Regions from separate parts of the Homo sapiens genome. Here region 2 is linked to region 1. Evidence: fine-mapped expression QTL. Tissue or cell type: fibroblasts. Region 1 holds a variant in brackets; the other region holds the start of a gene. All regions are shown on one strand. Distances are from middle to middle.

Region 1 (8,869 bases):
AGCCATAAAGTTATTTCTCATACTGAGCTTTAATCTGGTATTGTGTAATTTTCACCCAGTCCTGCTCTGAGAGCCAGATAAAATACATTGTACATGCCTCTCAAATATTTGAAGGTAGCTATTACTCCTTAGTCACATCTTTCAGCTGGTTTGGGAGTTTCAGTTTACGGTACCTTTTCCAACTTGGCAAATACCTCAGGATTTGCTCTAATTTGTAAATATCCTTTCACTGCATCCTGGAATAACATTAGTAATGTAAATGTGGTTTGAACAGCACTTTGTGTATCATTTTCCCATGATGTATTTTTCACCACTCTAAAATTAGATCAGTTTCTACACAACTGACTTACACGTTATTTCCAGCAAGCGAAAATCTCCAGATTTTTTCATCTATACTCTTGACAAGTGCTGTTTCCTTTTTCTATCAATGGCCTATTTGTTTCTAGGATAAAGACTAGGGTTCACCATGCCATCTGTAATTGTGTTCCTAATTAGCAGCCTCATGCATAGGCCAAACTTTCTTTTTTTTTTTTTTTTTTTTTTTTGAGACAGAGTCTCGCTCTGTCACCCAGGCTGGAGTGCAGTGGTGCGATCTCGGCTCACTGCAACCTCCACCTCCCGGGTTCAAGTGATTCTCCTGCCTCAGCCTCCCAAGTAGCTGGGACTACAGGCGCGTGCCACCACGCCCAGCTAACTTTTTGTGTTTTTAGTAGAGACAGGGTTTCACCGTGTTAGCCAGGATGGTCTCGATCTCCTGACCTCGTGATCCACCTGCCTCAGCCTCCCAAAGTACTGGGATTACAGACATGAGCCACCGCCCCTGGCCCAGTCTTCATATTTAACTGCACCTTCCTTCCTCTAGGCTTCCATATATTATTCATTCCCCTCAGCTAGGAATGCTTCCCCTGGGTCACCCAGGTCTACCCAATTCTTAGTTATCCTTCAAAACTTAGCTGAAATACCACTTCTCTGGGGGACTCTTCCTTGCCCTGCTCCCTATGTTCCCCTCCCAAAAGTACCTTTTACCTGTTACAATACCTTACAAATCTCCTTCAGCCCTTATCAAAATAGTAATATTTGTGCAATGAGGTGCCTGTCTCCTTAGCTATACCATGAAATCTATGAGGACACAGTCTGTCTTTACCTAGCACAGGTTTTTGCATGATTTATACATTCAGTAACTGTCTGTTGAATGAACGAACACTGAATGAATAGGATCAATATTTAGATTTCCCCAGGTAATCAAAGAAAACATTTAGCTAAGCCCTGGGTTGTATGCTGTACAAAGAAGAAACTGTATAGGTTACAAGACAATCTTGAGAAAGAAAGACCTCTCCAAAAAAGTGATGATATAATTTTAAAAATTTTCAAACTATGTCCTATAAAAACGAAGGGTAATTTTTTTTCACTCTTTCTAGTGTGGGGGTGGGGAGCATGGAAAAAGGCAAATAAGCACAGGTCAGTGGTATATTTGTTGTTTTACTGTTAATTTGACACATCTGAACCAAAGCATTCACAATACTTGATATACTTTGAAGAGAGTCATATACTATAGTCTTAAACATAACCACGGAACGAGCAGAACAATTAAAACTACATAAGGCCTTAAAATATATCCACAGTGTGTATTATTTCCATATTCATTCATTTACAAATTAGACTACATACCATTAATTTTATTTTTATTTTTCATTGTTTTATTCAGACAGGGTTCATTCAAGGAAAGGCAACTTAGTTTTTGTATGTGTGAGCTTTATTTTTTTACTATATTGGTTAATATAAAAGTTATGAATTAAACGTATTCTTATCTCCTATACCCAGGAGTGAATCCATGAAATTCTCAGATAGTAATCCAAAACAATAGGTCCTATTTTTAAAAATAGCTAAAGTGGGCCAGGCGCAGTGGCTCATGCCTGTAATTCCGACACTTTGGGAGGCCAAGGGCAGATCATGAGGTCAGGAGTTCAAGACCAGCCTGATCAACATGGCAAAACCCTGTCTCTACTAAAAATACAAAAATTAGCCAGGCGTGGTGGCAAGCATCTGTAATACCAGCTACTCAGGAGGCTGAGGCAGGAGAATCACTTGATCCCGGGAGGCAGAGGTTGCAGTGAATCAAGATCGCGCCACTGCACTCCAGCCTCAGTGACACAGCAAGACTCCATCTCAAAAAATGAAAAAAATAGCCAAAGTGAAAAGGGATCTGATAGCCAGTCTGTTAGTGGTCTTTAAGATCAACTCATGGACTTTCGGGATTTCATACAATGAAGACTACTGCAATTCTATGAAGACTATGAGATCAGTCAAAATTTAAAACATCGTATACAAAATCATTCTTGAAATCTCTAAATGCCTTTTAAGTAACCAGCATGAAAATTTTAAGTACTTGCCTCACAGTACCAAACTTAGAAGTCAAAACTAGTTAAAATTCAGTGCTATCATGACTTCTCATTTACAAGGTAACTCATTGGTAAATTAATAGATGGCATAAAAATTAAGATTTACATCTTTTTTAAAGGATAAATGTATGTAATCAGAGTATACAGAAAATTCAATGTATTTTACAATAAAATAACTTTAAACCTCTATCCCTGTACAACAGGGTTTAGGTTAATTCTAGTGAACTTGCATGGTTTTAAATCTCTTTTACAGTTCATTCCATTATGAGTACTTAAATTGCTTTAGATACATAGCTTTTTTCAAAATATTACAGTTGTATTCCAGGATAAGATTTAATATATTGAGATGTTTTAAAAATATTTATAAATTTGTTTCTAGTATGCAAAAGCATTTGGCAATACTTTTACAGCATTTGATTTTATAGAATTAAAATCTCATACAGTACTCATCTTGATGTTAAAAAAAAATTCACAGAAAAAATATAAATTACACAGCCTGACTGCACGGTACTGTTATTTCCAGTTTTTAGTTCTGGTAATTAAAACCTTCATTAAGTCTGTTAACAAATCATTACCTGTACATTTATGAAGGCAACTGACATGATTTGCAAACAAAACCTTCAGGTTTTATGTTATTTACCAAAGAGTGCAGTTCAGCAAGAAAGGAAAACCCAGTAGCAAATTTACAGAATATTTTACAAATTTACCAGTTCCTGTGACACAAACTGTTTCAACCTTTCAAGATACTGTCCATAAAGTTCCACATCATTGTGACCTGCTCCTTCAACCCAGAGAGGCTCCACAGGTCTTTGGCAACGTTCAAACAATGCGAGGCCATGTGAAAAGTCAATGACTTCATCTTCAGTCCCATGAATTATTAATACTGGAGAGGTTATCTTAGAGATTTTGTCAATGCTGCAGGGAAAAAGGAAGGGGGAAAAATGCAATAAATTAACTATGTAAAGGAACATATTCTTGTGCTATATCAGACAGATAATTCAAATATGAGAATTGTATGAATCAGTTCAGAAGGTAAGAATGTCTCCTGAATTTCCAGTAAGATTCAAAAATTGCCTTTTACATACTCCCTACCTTAAGATTATCTGAGGAAGTTATTTTCATGCACTTGTTTTGATGGTTTTGCTGGAATCACTCAATGCTCTTGTCACTCTACTGTACCTTTCTACAATGTTGACTTTTGGCACAGAGAAACTTAGGTGTCCAGAAGAAGAGAAAATTTAAGAACCATTTCAAGTATGCGCTAATTTCACTTTCTGCACTCACTATATTCTTTCTCCTAGTCTCCTACTAAAATGACAGCAAAATGTTTTATGTTTTTGTTCTTGTTTGAGGATAAAGATACAAAAACAAGGAGAATGTACTAAAATATAATAAAATGTTGGAGCTGGAAAGAAGATTAATGTGTGAAACAATTTATTAAAAGAAGAAAACACAATTTTAGGCAGATAGATGGTAAAGTGATGAACGAAACCAATTTATACAACAGAATACCCCAGAAAGCTAAGGAATTACCATGGTGATGAAGGGGGTGATTGAAATATACAGGATTTTTGCAAAGTCTGTGTAAGAAAGTTAGCCTCCCCTTCCCAGTTCCTTTTGCCTGTTCATATACCCAGAAACTGCCTGCCCCCAAGACTGGAATGTCTGTGAACTAGAAGACTGCCAGAGTTTAGAACAGAGGTATCATAGAGACAATGGAAACATATACATTTACATACTGGCTACTATGAACCCATTTTCCCTATGTGGCTCCCAGAATGCTGGTAGTCAGGCCACTGTCCTCCAGGAGGGACTTTTAGAAAGTCTTCTTTGGGCCAGGTGCGGTGGCTCATGCCTGTAATCTCGGCACTTTGGGAGGCCGTAGTGGGTGGATCACCTGAGGTCAGGAGTTCGAGACCAGCCTGATCAACATGGTGAAACCCCGTCTCTACTAAAAATACAAAAAAAAAAAAAAAAATTAGCCAGGCATGATGGCGCATGCCTGTAATCCCAGCTACTCGCGAGGCTGAGGCAGGAGAATCACTTGAACCCTGGAGGCAGAGGTTGCAGTGAGCCAAGATCACACCATTGTACTCCAGCCTGGGTGTCGCAGCGAGACTCTGTCTCAGAAAAAAAAAGAAAGAAAGAAAGAAAGAAAGAGCCTTCTTTGGAGATTATTATCAGATCAGCCCTTTAGTTGATCTGCTAAATCTTGATTGTCTGCTTATATGTAAGAGTAAAGAGTTGATCAGCTCCTTTACTTACATATAAGCAGGCAACCAAGAATTATCAGACATGAGAGGAGAACACTTCAAATAACAGAGGAATCAAAACAAACACTTTTTTAAAAGGCAACTTGGAGGACACAGAAACTACACAGACAATTCTTTTTAAGAATCTTTAGAGAAAGGTATTATAATAAACATAAAATGAAAATGGAATGTTGACAATGAAAAAACCATCAATGAAATAATCTAAGGCTGCATTTGGTAAGAATAAATACTTGGGTTTACTATCTGTTGTCAGAAAGATGTTCAGCGGTAGAGGAATTAAAACTTGAATAAAAAATAAAAAGAAGTATATTATCTTTTTCAAACAGTTTATTTTTATTTTTTGAGACAGGGT[C/T]TCGCTCTGTCGCCCAGGCTGGAGTGCAGTGGCACCATCTTGGCTCACTGCCATCTCTGTCTCCCAGGTTCAAGGGATTCTCATGCCTCAGCCTCTCGAGTAGCTGGGATTACAGGCACGCATCACCATGCCTGGCTAATTTTTGTAATTTTGGTGGAGACGGGGTTTCACCATGTTGGCCAGGCTGGTCTCGAACTCTTGGCCTCAAGTGATCCACCCGCCACGGCCTCCAAAAGTGCTGGGACTACAGGCGTGAACCACTGTGCCTGGCCAAACAGTTTATTTTTAGTGTTGCTCTCTGTTGGTGCACCAGAAATGAAAGAGGGAGCTAGATGGAGACATAAGTTGACAACAACACTGATATGGGGATACTCAGATACATCCCTATCATTTTTACCATTCAGCTAGACAGAGGCAGTATAATGCCTATACCCACATTACCTGAAACAAAAACAAACCCAAAACAAAATAAAAACCCAAACATGCCCACAGCTTGCCCTTGTGATAAGATCATGTGTTCACATACTTTCCCTACTAAAGTGATCCATTACTGGCTAATGATGAAAATTCTGTGTTTTTAAAATAATTCTTGAACCATGTGATGACTTTGCCTTTGGCCCATCGGCCATTCACAAAAAAAATCCTTTGTATTGCTGCCAATTGGAGAAAGGAGAGAAAACTAAAATTTGCCAACTTATTTCTTGTCTTCTCCTTGAGAAAAATAGGCCATTAATTTTTTCCAACTATGAAGAGTAGGTGGGAACTACCTCCTGTCTTGAGAAGCATGAAGGAAAAGTAGCTACTTTCCTTTCAAATACATCTAAGTATGTTTGCAGGTTTTGTGGCAGCAATACTTACTAATCTAGTTAATTTAAGATTCAACTTTTTTTCAATTCACTTCTTTTGTAAGTTAGGTATCATTAATCAGATATTTACTCATTTTAGCTTCTACCTGTTCTTCTCTAACATCAAGTGTCTCACTGGATGGCCCTATCCATTAGCACCTCAGGGCAGAAACATGGTAGTCATGTTCAAGTTTTTCTCTTTAGCATCCTACACCCAGTCTGATACTCAGTTCTGTCAAATTTATGTTTCAAATTAATTCCCTTGTCTCCAATACTAGTGCCACCACCTGAGGTGTAAGGCCCTCAGCAATTTTCATCTGGATTACTACTCCTCAAACATTTCAGCCTTCTGACTGGTCACCTGCTAATACCCTCTTTACAAATTAATTTTTCATAATTTCTATGTGCTAATATATATAAAATGAAGTTTATGGTTGAGTGAACTGTGTCATGAATACTTTAAATGATGAAAAAATTCCCAAGTTTCTTGGAATTTAACTATTTTGAATATTGCTACTTACTTTGGGAATGCATCAAAACAGTAGGTCTTCTTGGTATCAGGAAAGGCAACTCGCATTCCCGAAGTCAGAGGAGAATGAAGAATAACAGCAGCACTCTCATATCGAGCAGCAAGATCCACAGACGGTACTGTCCCTATACTTTGGCCATATATAATCACATTTTCAGGGCGAATGCCATATCTACAAAGTTCAGGCGTTAAAAACAAAAACCAAAAAAGTTGGAGTGATATGAAATGTTCCATCATTCCAAAGGATTTGATCTTAGAATAAGACAATGTCAACTAATCCATTTTTTAAACTTAAGTTTCTTAGCTATTACTGTTAGTTTTAACATTACAATAAAGTCTGTATCATCAGTTTATTTCATGTGTTTCTCTACTTCATCTTTTGGAAGAATAATTGCTGAGGTATTTTAAGATTTCAATCTTAAGAAATAAATTTATTAAATAATTTATTACACTATAATATTTCAACCTAGCTTACTGCTGACTAAGCTTGGGGCATATCACTAATATTTTAATGAACTGATGTTGAATGAATAGGTCATATTTATTTTCCGTTCAGTGTAACAAAAGTTATTTATTTCTCCACACATCAAGAGTGGCTCATTTTAATTTCCAAAATTGGTCATATTGATGAACTGTTACATATAGTTATGGTATGAAATGAATATATGTATGGTTTTAGTAAAGGGCAAATTATGATTTTACGATTTTTCTTAAAATTGATCTTTGCTTAGTTGTAGAAATGGACTAATGGTTGAAAAGATAAAAAAGAATTCCAAACACCACATGGTCCAATTATTTATGATTAGACTTTACGCTAAAATTACAAGGTACTATTTTAATCCCTTTAAAATGGCCACAGGTTTAAATAGATGAAAACTCATTGACTCAATAAATATTTATTGGGTACCTAGTATGTTCAAGGAACTGCTTGCTACTTGTCTACAGTATAATCATCCCAAATGTAAACTACTGCAAGTGTAAGTACAGTGCTACCTGAGCTAATGAATGTGGGCTTAAAGGTTATAGTGACATTAAATACACCTTTCCACTTAGAAGGCAGACAGCAGTCACTCTGGCAGCTAAGAACATAACAGCTGCTTTTGGAAATCTTTTGCAAAGGTAAAATATCTTTCTAAGAATCTGGATATTCACCAGGAAAGAGCGAGGGAAACTGTCCGTGTGTTCTCTTCCAGGGGCATAATACTATTTCAACTATACAGGTAGTAACACAGCTCTCCCCATATAGTTTCTTCAAGTCAGTACTACACAAGCATTTGTATAGGACACAGAAAGTGGGGCTCTGTCTACTTCAAATTGACTCTAAATATTAGCAAACTCAGAAAAGCTTTTTTCTTTACAACAGACCTAGTTGCACATATTTCATACGAATGAAGAAATTAGGAGAATGAACATTTGCAGCATGACCACAGTTCTTGAGGCTGCATTGTTGCTGTCAGCTGAATATCAGCATTGTTGGTGGCAATCATGAAATTTGGGCTACAGCTAGCAATGACAATGCTCAAGGATAGAGTCGCAGAGGTAGCTGACAATTAAGCATGAGGGGACTCACAAGAGTAACAACTGCCTAACAGTATGAGCTAGAAAGGAGTTTAGAGACCATCTAATCTAGAGTCCAGCTGCCTAATGAGCAGATCTTCAAAGTCACCAGTAGATGACAGCTCTATAATTAGAACCCAGGTATACTGACTCCCAGTTCAGTGTTTTTTACCTCTGAAGCACACAGATGAGGAACTCAAGGACTTTGTGGGAAAGGTGCATAGTGAATGCCAGGCCCCGAGTTTCTTTTGGTCCATCAGAAGGTCAGAAATTGGAGTTATTATGGATATCCAATTTTCCCAAAAAGGACATTCCAATGTTCATTCATCCCAAAAATGAACATTATTTAAGTTCATTATTTATTTTCTCTCTCCTGGTTACTTAAGTCCTAACTTTTAATCAGGCAAATAAAATAAAAGGCATGTATTCTAATTACACACATTTCATTAGATGACAGAATTCCAGAATTGGAAAAGATCTTGGGGATCATTTAATTCAATCTCTTCATTAAACAGATGAGGAAACACAGGCTCAGAGAAGTAATATTTCCTAAAGTACCTACACTTATGAAACTCCAACTATATTTTGGTTTCAACACGAAAGAAAACACAGGTCTAAAATTCTAAAATATAAGTGCTAAAATAGTATGTGGGATTATTGATGAAATCTGCCCATTCCTGATTAACACTGGCTATCAAATATGTTAAAAAAATTAAGGCTGAAAATCATTTTTCAAAGTTTTCTTCAAATTGGTAAATGCCAAGATTAAAAGAAAAGAAAAGAAAAAAACAGTAAAGTTGACCACTTAAAAAATGGGATTTTTTCATATAGACACAGAACACTGAACTGAATACTAACATGTTTTGTTTGAGTAAAGTGACCCTTTTGCGTTACTGGGAAGCACTAATAATGAA
Region 2 (8,869 bases), 43 kb after region 1:
AATACAGCATCTGGCCGGGCACAGTGGCTCATGTCTGTAATCCCAATGTCCCAGTGCTTTGGGATACTGAGGAGGGAGGATCACTTGAGGCCAGGAGTTCAAGATCAGCCTGGGCAAGATAGCAAGACCCTGTCTCTGTAAAAAATCTAAAAATTAGCCAGGCTTGATGGTGCATACCTGTAGTCCCAGATGCTCAGGAGGCTGAAGTGGGAGGATCCCTTGAGCCCAGGAGTTTGAGGTTACAGTGAGTTGTATGGCTCCAGAGATCCTGTCTTTTACATTATTAAAAAACAAACAAACAAACAAAAAAAAAAACAGCATCTGCATCAGTAGGTTAAAGTCTGATGCTCTGCATTTCCAACAAGCTCCCAAGGGATTCTGATGTTGCTGGTCGACCATTACACTTGGTGGCTAATCTTGAATGTAGTCTTGAGCTCGAGTATTTACAAAGTGAAACACATATTACTTTATTACAATTTTTTCTTATTTTATTAAGGCCAATGCTTTCTTTAAAGTACTGTAAAATATTTTCTATGAACATGGGATGTAGGTAGGGTCAAGAACCACTGCTCTAGAAGTCTTACACAACAGATACCTAACATATACAGGAATATTCCTTATAGTACTGTTTAATAGCAAACAAATGGAAACAACAAAAATGACCATCAACAGAAACCTGACATAGTTATATAACAGAGCACATACCACCTAACAGTAAAAGTAAATAAACTAGAGCTACCTAAATAAACATAGATAAATCTTGGCCAAGTTGTGTGAAGAAAGCAAGCTAAATAAAGATATCTGTATTTAAATAGTCTTAAGACAATCAAAATAAAACTATATATATATAATGTTCATAGGATAAAGGTATGTAGTTAAGTATCAACACGTGGATATAGGAAGGATGCATGTCAACTTTGGGTCACTGGTTAGATATCGGGGGGAAAAGGGAACAGCATTTAAGAGAGGTATTAACATACTAAGGAAACCTCGTTTTTTGTTTTTGTTTTTCTGAGACAGAGTTTTGCTCTTGCTGCCCACGCTGGAGTGCAATGGTGCTATCTTGGCTCACCACAACCTCTGCCTCCTGGGTTCAAGCGATTCTCCTGCCTCAGCCTCCCGAGTGGCTGGGATTACAGGCAAGCACCACCACACCCGGCTAATTTTGTATTTTTAGTAGAGACGGGGTTTCTCCATGTTGGTCAGGCTGGTCTCTAACTCCCGACCCCAGGTGATCCGCCTGCCTCGGCCTCCCTCCCAAAGTGCTGGGATTACAGGCGTGAGCCACCGAGCCTGGCCGGACACTTCGTTTTAATTGGTAGTTTTGTTTGTTTAACTGGGTGATGGGTACATGGATATTCATTATATTGTATGGCACCAACATTTATATTGCTATGTTAGTTCTCACTTCACTTGGACAAAACTCTTGGGCATGAACAGGTGTTTGGAAAACACTGCTCCAAAGCAAAGGATTCAGGACTAGAGAAGACCCAAGTTCAAGCCTCAATTCTACTTCTTACTAATTGCTTAGCTTTAGGCAATTGAAATAATTAACTTATCTGGGCTTTATTTATTTCATCTGTAAAAATTCCACAAACAGTGAAGTGGCTCACACCTGTAATCCTAGCACTTTGGGAGGCCAAGGCGGGTGGATCACCTGAGGTCAGGAGTTGAAGACCAGCATGGCCAACGTGGTGAAACCCCATCTCTACTAAAAATACAAAAAATTAGCCGGGAGTGGTGGCGGGTGCCCGTAATCCCAGCTACTCAGGAGGCTGAGGCAGAAGAATCACTTGAACCCGGGAAGCAGAGGTTGCAGTGAGCCGAGATCGCGCCATTGCACGCCAGCCTGGGCAACAAGAGCAAAACTCCGTCTCAAAAAAAAAAAAAAAAAAAAAGGCCACAAACTCACCTTCCCTCTCTCCAACTCACAAGGCTGGATTCGACAGGCAAATGGGGCAATGTATGTGAGAAATTTTAAAGAGTAGGAAGGGTAGGGGGAATTTTCAGAATTAAGAGCAAAACTTTGGATAAATCAGAAGTAAAATCTACCAGTAAATAAACCAACCAATAAAATATACTCTATTTTCTTGTCATCACTGCTTCTAAAGATCTTAACACCAATCTTAATACGGAAGAAATTTTAATTCTTAAATGATGGCATAGGGAGAGTCATTCTCCTTATCTTTATGCTAACTGTTCATCAAATGATTGAAATTCATAATATCAAAACAAAGTAAGAGCACTGCATTAAAAAGTATTCTCATTTAACTTATATCAATGTCACATAACCAGAGTAACTGTTGCTTACATGGTTCTCACTCCCCTTTTTATAAAGTGAGCAGGTGGCACATTTTATCAGCCCTATATTACAGATGGAGAAAACTGACTCAGATGTGGGATAGCGTGCCTGGAGTTGTAGACCAATTCAGTGTCAAACTTGGAACAGACACTAATTGCTTAATTCTTCTGTGTTCATTAAGCTACTAAAAACATTATTTTTTCATGATGTTTTTTGGTGATTTTGTTTGTCCCAGGAAACAGAAAATTCTTTGTCAGCAGTCATTTCATAAACATTTCAAAATGGGCAAAGATACTCAAGGAAACAAGCTACTCATCAACTAGAATACTGCACACTAAGGGACAAAATTAAAACTGCCTAGCCTGCTAAAAATCTAATCCTGTCCTTGCCAATTAACCTTATTAACACTAGAGTAGGAGAAAAGAGAGGTCAAAATATAGGTGAAGGTGCCATTCATTTCCTTCTGGATTTCAAATGATATGACAATTACTGCACAACAGAGATTTTTACCTCTGCTGTTCCTTAAGTAACACGACCCCTATTCTCCAAATAAAAACTTACCAACAAGTTGAGCAGTCTCAAATTAGAATACTAGCAATCATGACAATTTTCAAAATACTGGCTATCATTAGATGTCACCCAACTGAAATTCATGCTATAAACATATGTAGAGAAACTCTTTACGGAAAAAAGTTCATTTTAATGTAAATTTCCCTGTTAATCTAAACAGATTAACGTTATTACAACATGTATCTGGCTTTCTACTCCGACTCATTAGGTATTATAGTTTCATATGTTGGCACAAGATCTCCAAAGATTTATTAGAGGCATAAAAAAATTCCAAATGAATCATCTATAGATCAAGCATCATATATCACAAAAAGTATTAAACAGGAACACATTTCATAAACAGCGAAATTTAAAGGTCACCCTCTGTATTCCGTTATTCATCCTTTTGCTTACCAAATCTACTTCACACTGACTTAAAGCATCATTTACAAAAAATTCTCTTCTGGCATTGGCAGAGATCTCACCAAAGATCAAAGATCTGAACTTTTTTTTTTTTTAAACAAAAACCCCAGGTTAAATACACTCTTTCCTTCACGAGAGCCCCCACACAGTACAATCTAATTTGACATAACTTTGTTTCGGGGTTAAAAAAAATCCCAAACAAAACCTTTAAATTTTCCAATTCAAAAACGATTCCTGATAAGCCTACCTTAGAGTTCGAAAACAAATAAGATTAAAGCCCAACCATCTAAAGAAAAAGAACCCTACGACAGCCCCACCGGAATACACAAATCGCCAAGCCCCGTGCAGATTCAATCTAAAATCGCGCCCGACAGAGATATAAGGACATTCAGGAGAAAGCTTTTAGGCACCCGCGAATCTCTCAGTGCGCCAGTGAGGGGAATGGGAACCTGACCCCATCTTTTCATCCACTGAGAGAAAAGCAAAGGAAATGAAATGGAACCCTTCTCTTCACCGAGGAGGACCAAAGACCTTCTTAGAGTGTCGGTCGGTCCTCCCTCCCCCACCCCCTGACTCCGGCCGCTCCACGGACCGCAGGGACTGTCCTACCGCTCCCCTTCACGCAACCATCAGAGAATCCTCTCAAAAACACAGACCCGATGAGGAGTGGCTTCCCCGCCTTTCCCCTGTGCCGAGAAGGGATCCCGGTCGCCAACAACAAAGACGCTTCCCGCTCCCCTCCCCCCGCCGGCCCGGGCTCGTCCCTCCCGCGCTGCGGCTCCCGGCCTAGCGCCCCCTCCCCGAGCCGGGCTGCGGCGTCCCCAAACCCCGAGGCCGCACGCACCTGCACCTGAGCGGCCCGGGCCGAAGCGCCGGGCAGAAGGGGTCGAGAGAGAACCGCAGCCGACGCGCTGTCCTCCACAAGGCGAGATCCGCGCTCCGGGCGCCGTCCGACTCTCTCCGCCTGCAGACTGGCCCGACAGAGGAGCGGGGACCAGGGCTACAGCCCCCGGCGCCGGGGCGAAGAAGGACGGCGGCGCCCCAGGGGCCCCGCTCACGCTCCCGAGTCTCGCCTCGCGCCGGCCCTGCTCCTCCACAAGAGCTCGCGTTCTGCTGACTAACGGCCCCGGTGCGGGGCGCTGGAGCGGCCGCCGCTGCCCGTCGGTTGCTCTCGGGCCTCACGTCCCGCGCGGCCGTGGTCGCAGCCGCCGCCGCCACCGCCTCCCTTTCTGGCACTGCAGACGCCACCCAGACCTAGCCAGGTCTTCCTTCTCTTTAATCCTGCTTTCTTTGCTCCTCCTCAGCCTGCCAAGCGCGAGGCTCGTTCCGGTAGCGGGAGGAAGACTGGAGGGGAACGGAGGGGACGAGCACAATCCCCACTGAGCCAGGAGTTGGCCACTGACTGGAGGAAGGTGCCAAAGCTGACCCCGGCTCCAGCCTACTAGCGGGCGGGGGGAGAGACGGAGCCCAGCCTTGCCTCACTTCCACCAATCAGAGGCCGCCCGGCAGGGTGGGAGGCGCTCTGAGCTCAAGGAGAGGCTGAGCTCGCTCAGCAGGAGGCGGGGATTGCGGAAAAGAAGAACCAATAGGAACAAAGGTTCCCCGCCCCTTTGATTTGATGGACTACACATTCGGGCCAATGGGGGAATTCTCATTTCGAAGAAAGTGGGACTTGTTCTCCGGGTTTGAGAAAGAGGCTGCGCGGAGCCGGAGGGGTCGAGGCTGCGCCGCGTGGAGTGGCTTGGCTTAACAGCAGGGAGGGCAGAGCGATGCTCTTTGACCTCCCAGAAGAGTCACGTGGGCTGACCCAGAGCCGGGGCGGAAAGGCTGCGTTTGTTTCTTCCGGGTCATTGACAGAAGCGTCAATTCCTGGGAGTAGTTCGTTGGTTTTCTTTCCCCTCATCCTTTTGCCTGCTCCCGGCGAGGGGTGGCTTTGATTTCGGCGATGAGCTCCCAGAAAGGCAACGTGGCTCGTTCCAGACCTCAGAAGCACCAGAATACGTTTAGCTTCAAAAATGACAAGTTCGATAAAAGTGTGCAGACCAAGGTAGGAACCTGCCTGTTGCACCGTCTTTGACTCCAGGAAGGAATGGCTCACTGGAGAGGGGAGAGAGGAAATGAGAGGAGTCGGCTGGGGCGAGTGTGGACCGCAGCCCAGAGTTAGTCTTGGCTGCAGTGCAACTCTTTCTAAAATGTTATTCTCACGCCCTTTCTTTGACCTGGACATGTTGTCTCCTGGTAAATATTTGATGGTCAGCACACTTAACTAATTGCACAGAGTGAACAGGACCCTAATGAAATCTAAGGTGCAGATGGGGCAGTTACGTCGTTCAGCGTTCCCATCTGGATCACATTAGCAGAGGGAAACGAGGATTGTGGCATGAGTGGCTTTTTCAAATTTTACACCAAGTTTATGCAGCTACGATTTTTTTTTCCAAAAACCCCAAGCCCATAGAGGAAATGTGAATGATTAAGCTGTCTTAGGCTGTCCTCACTAGTATTGTGTGAAATTTCTGTTTTGTAACAATTGTTTTGAAGATAAAAATATTTGGTTAATGTAAAAATACTTGTTTTGCTGTTTATCTTTAGCAGGACTTCTGTAAAGTCCTGCTAAAAAATTCAGACTGTCTAGATAGCCAGAGGACTTGGGTTGTATATAAGTACTAATTTGCAGGCCGGGCGCCGTGGCTCAAAGTGCTGTAATCCCAGCACTTTGGGAGGCCGAAGCGGGTGGATCACCTGAGGTCAGGAGTTCGAGAACGACCTGGTCAACATGGCGAAACTCCATCTGTACTAAAAATACAAAAATTAGCCGGGCGTGGTGGCGGGCGCTTGTAATCTCAGCACTTTGGGAGGCCGAGGTGGTGGGCGGATCACCTGAGGTCAGAAGTTCGAGAACGACCTGGCCAACATGGCGAAACTCCCAATCTGCTAAAAATACAAAAATTAGCCGACGTGGTGACGGGTGCCGGTAATCCCAGCTACTCGGGAGGCTGAGGCAGGGGAATCGCTTGAACCCTGGAGGCGGTGGTTGCAGTGAGCTGAGATCACATCACTGCACTCCTGGGCGACAGAGCAAGACTCCGTCTCAAAAAACAAAAACAAAAAACTACTAATTTGCTCTTTGCTGTGAATCTCTCTCCCTGTCTCCATAGCTGTATGGAGAGAAAATCATTGACAACAGGGGCATATTAGGGGCCAGCATCACTCAGATAAACCTAATATTCACAAAAGTTATGGAGCTCAAATTTACTAGGTGTGCGGCTTGAGTGAGTTGTATAATATTTAATTTCTCTGAGCCTTACTTTGGTCTCAAATGCAAATTTGTCAGGATTGTTGGGAGGCGAAACTATATGATTATGCATAAATGGCCTAGGTCATAGTAAGTGTTCAATAAGTGATTAATTTCCCGACATTGATTGGGAAAGCAAAGTCATCTGTTTTTGGTAACCTGTGATCTCCTTTTCCTTTCCTCTTTCTTTCTTTGCTTATTCTACAAATATTTAATAAGCACCTTCCGTGTGCAAGGCCCTGTGTTCATAGGTATACCGTGTTCAAAAGAGCTGACTCTCCCTTCACGGAGTTTATAGTTTCTAGGTGATATGGGCAAAAAGAAAGCAGAAAGATAAGTAAATACAAATTATGATAAATATTGGTGAAGGGCAACACAGCTCAGTAAGGGAGAATAAGGAAGAATATTTTAAATTAAGTGCTCTCCTTTCCCCCACTTAGGTTGAGAGGTTTTTCAGAATGAAAACCTGAAGCAACATTTGGGAAGACTTTCCCAAGTTTGCTCCCATTATCAATAGGTAAACCAGAATAAAAATAAAAAGCTGCACTATTCCAAATAGATGTCTGCGTCTTGTGTATTCTTACCCTAAGGTTGTGCACAAACATTTGCTTTTGATTGTTTTTCATGTCTGTTTTCGTAAAAAGCAGTTTTAATGAGTATTTAACTATAGTGTAGCTTCTCCTACTTGTACTTTTCATTGTGCATTTTCTTGGTGTTATCTAATAACTATGTCATTCTGGTCCTAAATGTTTTCCTGGGTCTCAGGTTCAGTCACTAAGTTGCATTTGACCATTTTTATCTTTTTATCTTTAATTCCTTTCCCTCTTTTAAGTTATGAAAAAGTCTCATTTGTTAATCAGGAGGACCACCAGGCCACTTCATTATTGAAGGTTCTGACAAAAACAACACAAAATATTTTACTGAGGAAAAATCATTCGGTTGATTGTTCATCTGTGTAATGAATAGCTAATAATTGTCTGTGATCATAACAGATTCTTGCATCTGCTATGAGTAGCCATCTAAAGCCAAGACTTTGTCAGAAGCATCTGATCCTAACTTTGTGCCTGTTCTTTACACTGGAAAGCTATTTGATCTGGTGACATCTAACAAAGGAGTGATAAAAAATGCACGGTTCTCTGTAACTCCCCATAAAGCAAGCTTGTCCAACACATGGTGCAGGGCGTCTTTGAATGCAACCCAACACAAATTCGTAAATTTTCTTAAAACATTATGAGATTTTTTTGTGATTTTTTTTTTTTTAAGCTCATCAGTTGTCATTAGTGTTAGTGTATTTTATGTGTGGCCCAAGACAATTCTTCCAGTATGGCCCAGAGAAGCCAAAAGATTGGACACCCCTGCCTTAGAGGACTGTAGTAACAATTGACTACTTGTATTAAATACTTTATGATTTGGTAGGGGTCCTACATGATAGTTTTTCTTTTCCTCCTCTGCCAAGCAGTTTGTTAGGACTCACTGCAATTAGAAGTTGGATAATTACAGATGTTTTATTGGAAGTTAATATAGGTAAAGCACTCATTCTCAAAAGGACACAGATGATAGCTTTCTTTATATGCTTGAATATACTCTAGAAAAGGAGAGTATATTCAAATTTTGTGCCATTTCAAATGGCCAAACTTGGACCAGGGAATCAAAGTAACAAAAATAGGTTTCAGCTCAATATGAGGGAATTATCTGACAGTGAAGGGGCTTGCGCCGGGATTTGTAACCTCCTCTTCCCTGGGGTTATTTAAAAGAGGTCCCTCTGGCCATTGGTCACCGGTACCCTCAAATGACTTATGGGGATTCAGAGGGTCGGCAGTGGGAATAGGTTTAAATCTTTTCTAGTCATTTAGTACTGAGATGTTGAGCAGATCAAGGCAGCCTTCTTTCCCTTACTGGAAAGGCAGTGATGTCCAACGAAAAGAGCACTGGACTAAGAGAAAAGAGCCATTCCTTAGCCCCAGTTCTGTCATTTGTTTTGCTTGATGATGTCAGGCAATTTACCTATAGCTTTTAATCTATGATACTGGGTTAGTACTATCTCTTGTCTTACTTTCCTCTGAGGATTGCTACAGAGATCATTACAAAAATTATTATTATTATTTTTTTTTTTTTTTTGAGACAGAGTCTCGCTCTCTCGCCCAGGCTGGAGTGCAGTGGCGTGATATGGATCACCACAACCTCCACCTCCTGGGTTCAAGTGATTCTCTTGTCTCAGCCTCCCAAGTAGCTGGGATTTCAGGGGCACACAACCATGCCTGGCTAATTTTTGTATTTTTAGTAGAGATGGGGTTTCACTATGT

Direction of the effects. Alleles are on the strand shown, and positions count from the first base shown. SD is a standard deviation of normalised expression in the study named.
For the expression in fibroblasts of the gene that starts at base 4,678 in region 2, allele C in region 1 goes with a higher level than allele T (moderate effect, 0.46 SD a copy in GENCORD).

What was found. PIP is the estimated chance that this variant, and not a neighbour inherited with it, causes the effect.
Region 2: it holds the start of ABHD17B, and the variant in region 1 is fine-mapped to the expression of ABHD17B in fibroblasts (GENCORD, PIP 0.95).

The regions. Positions count from the first base shown.
Region 1 is chr9:71,863,693-71,872,561 of GRCh38, forward strand. ABHD17B (abhydrolase domain containing 17B, depalmitoylase) reads right to left here. Exons shown (of 4, transcript NM_001025780.3): 3 at 6,391-6,570; 4 at 1,460-3,314. The coding sequence ends at 3,095. Among named protein-coding and RNA genes, the nearest start is that of ABHD17B, 43 kb to the right of the region's middle. The variant C/T (reference allele first, on the strand shown) is at 5,025.
Region 2 is chr9:71,906,516-71,915,384 of GRCh38, forward strand. It overlaps ABHD17B (abhydrolase domain containing 17B, depalmitoylase), which reads right to left and starts at 4,678. Exons shown (of 4, transcript NM_001025780.3): 1 at 4,119-4,678. It overlaps C9orf85 (chromosome 9 open reading frame 85), which reads left to right and starts at 5,124. Exons shown (of 4, transcript NM_182505.5): 1 at 5,124-5,321. The coding sequence starts at 5,220. RefSeq lists a silencer at 4,202-4,441 and enhancers at 4,892-5,201, 5,272-5,321, 5,332-5,391.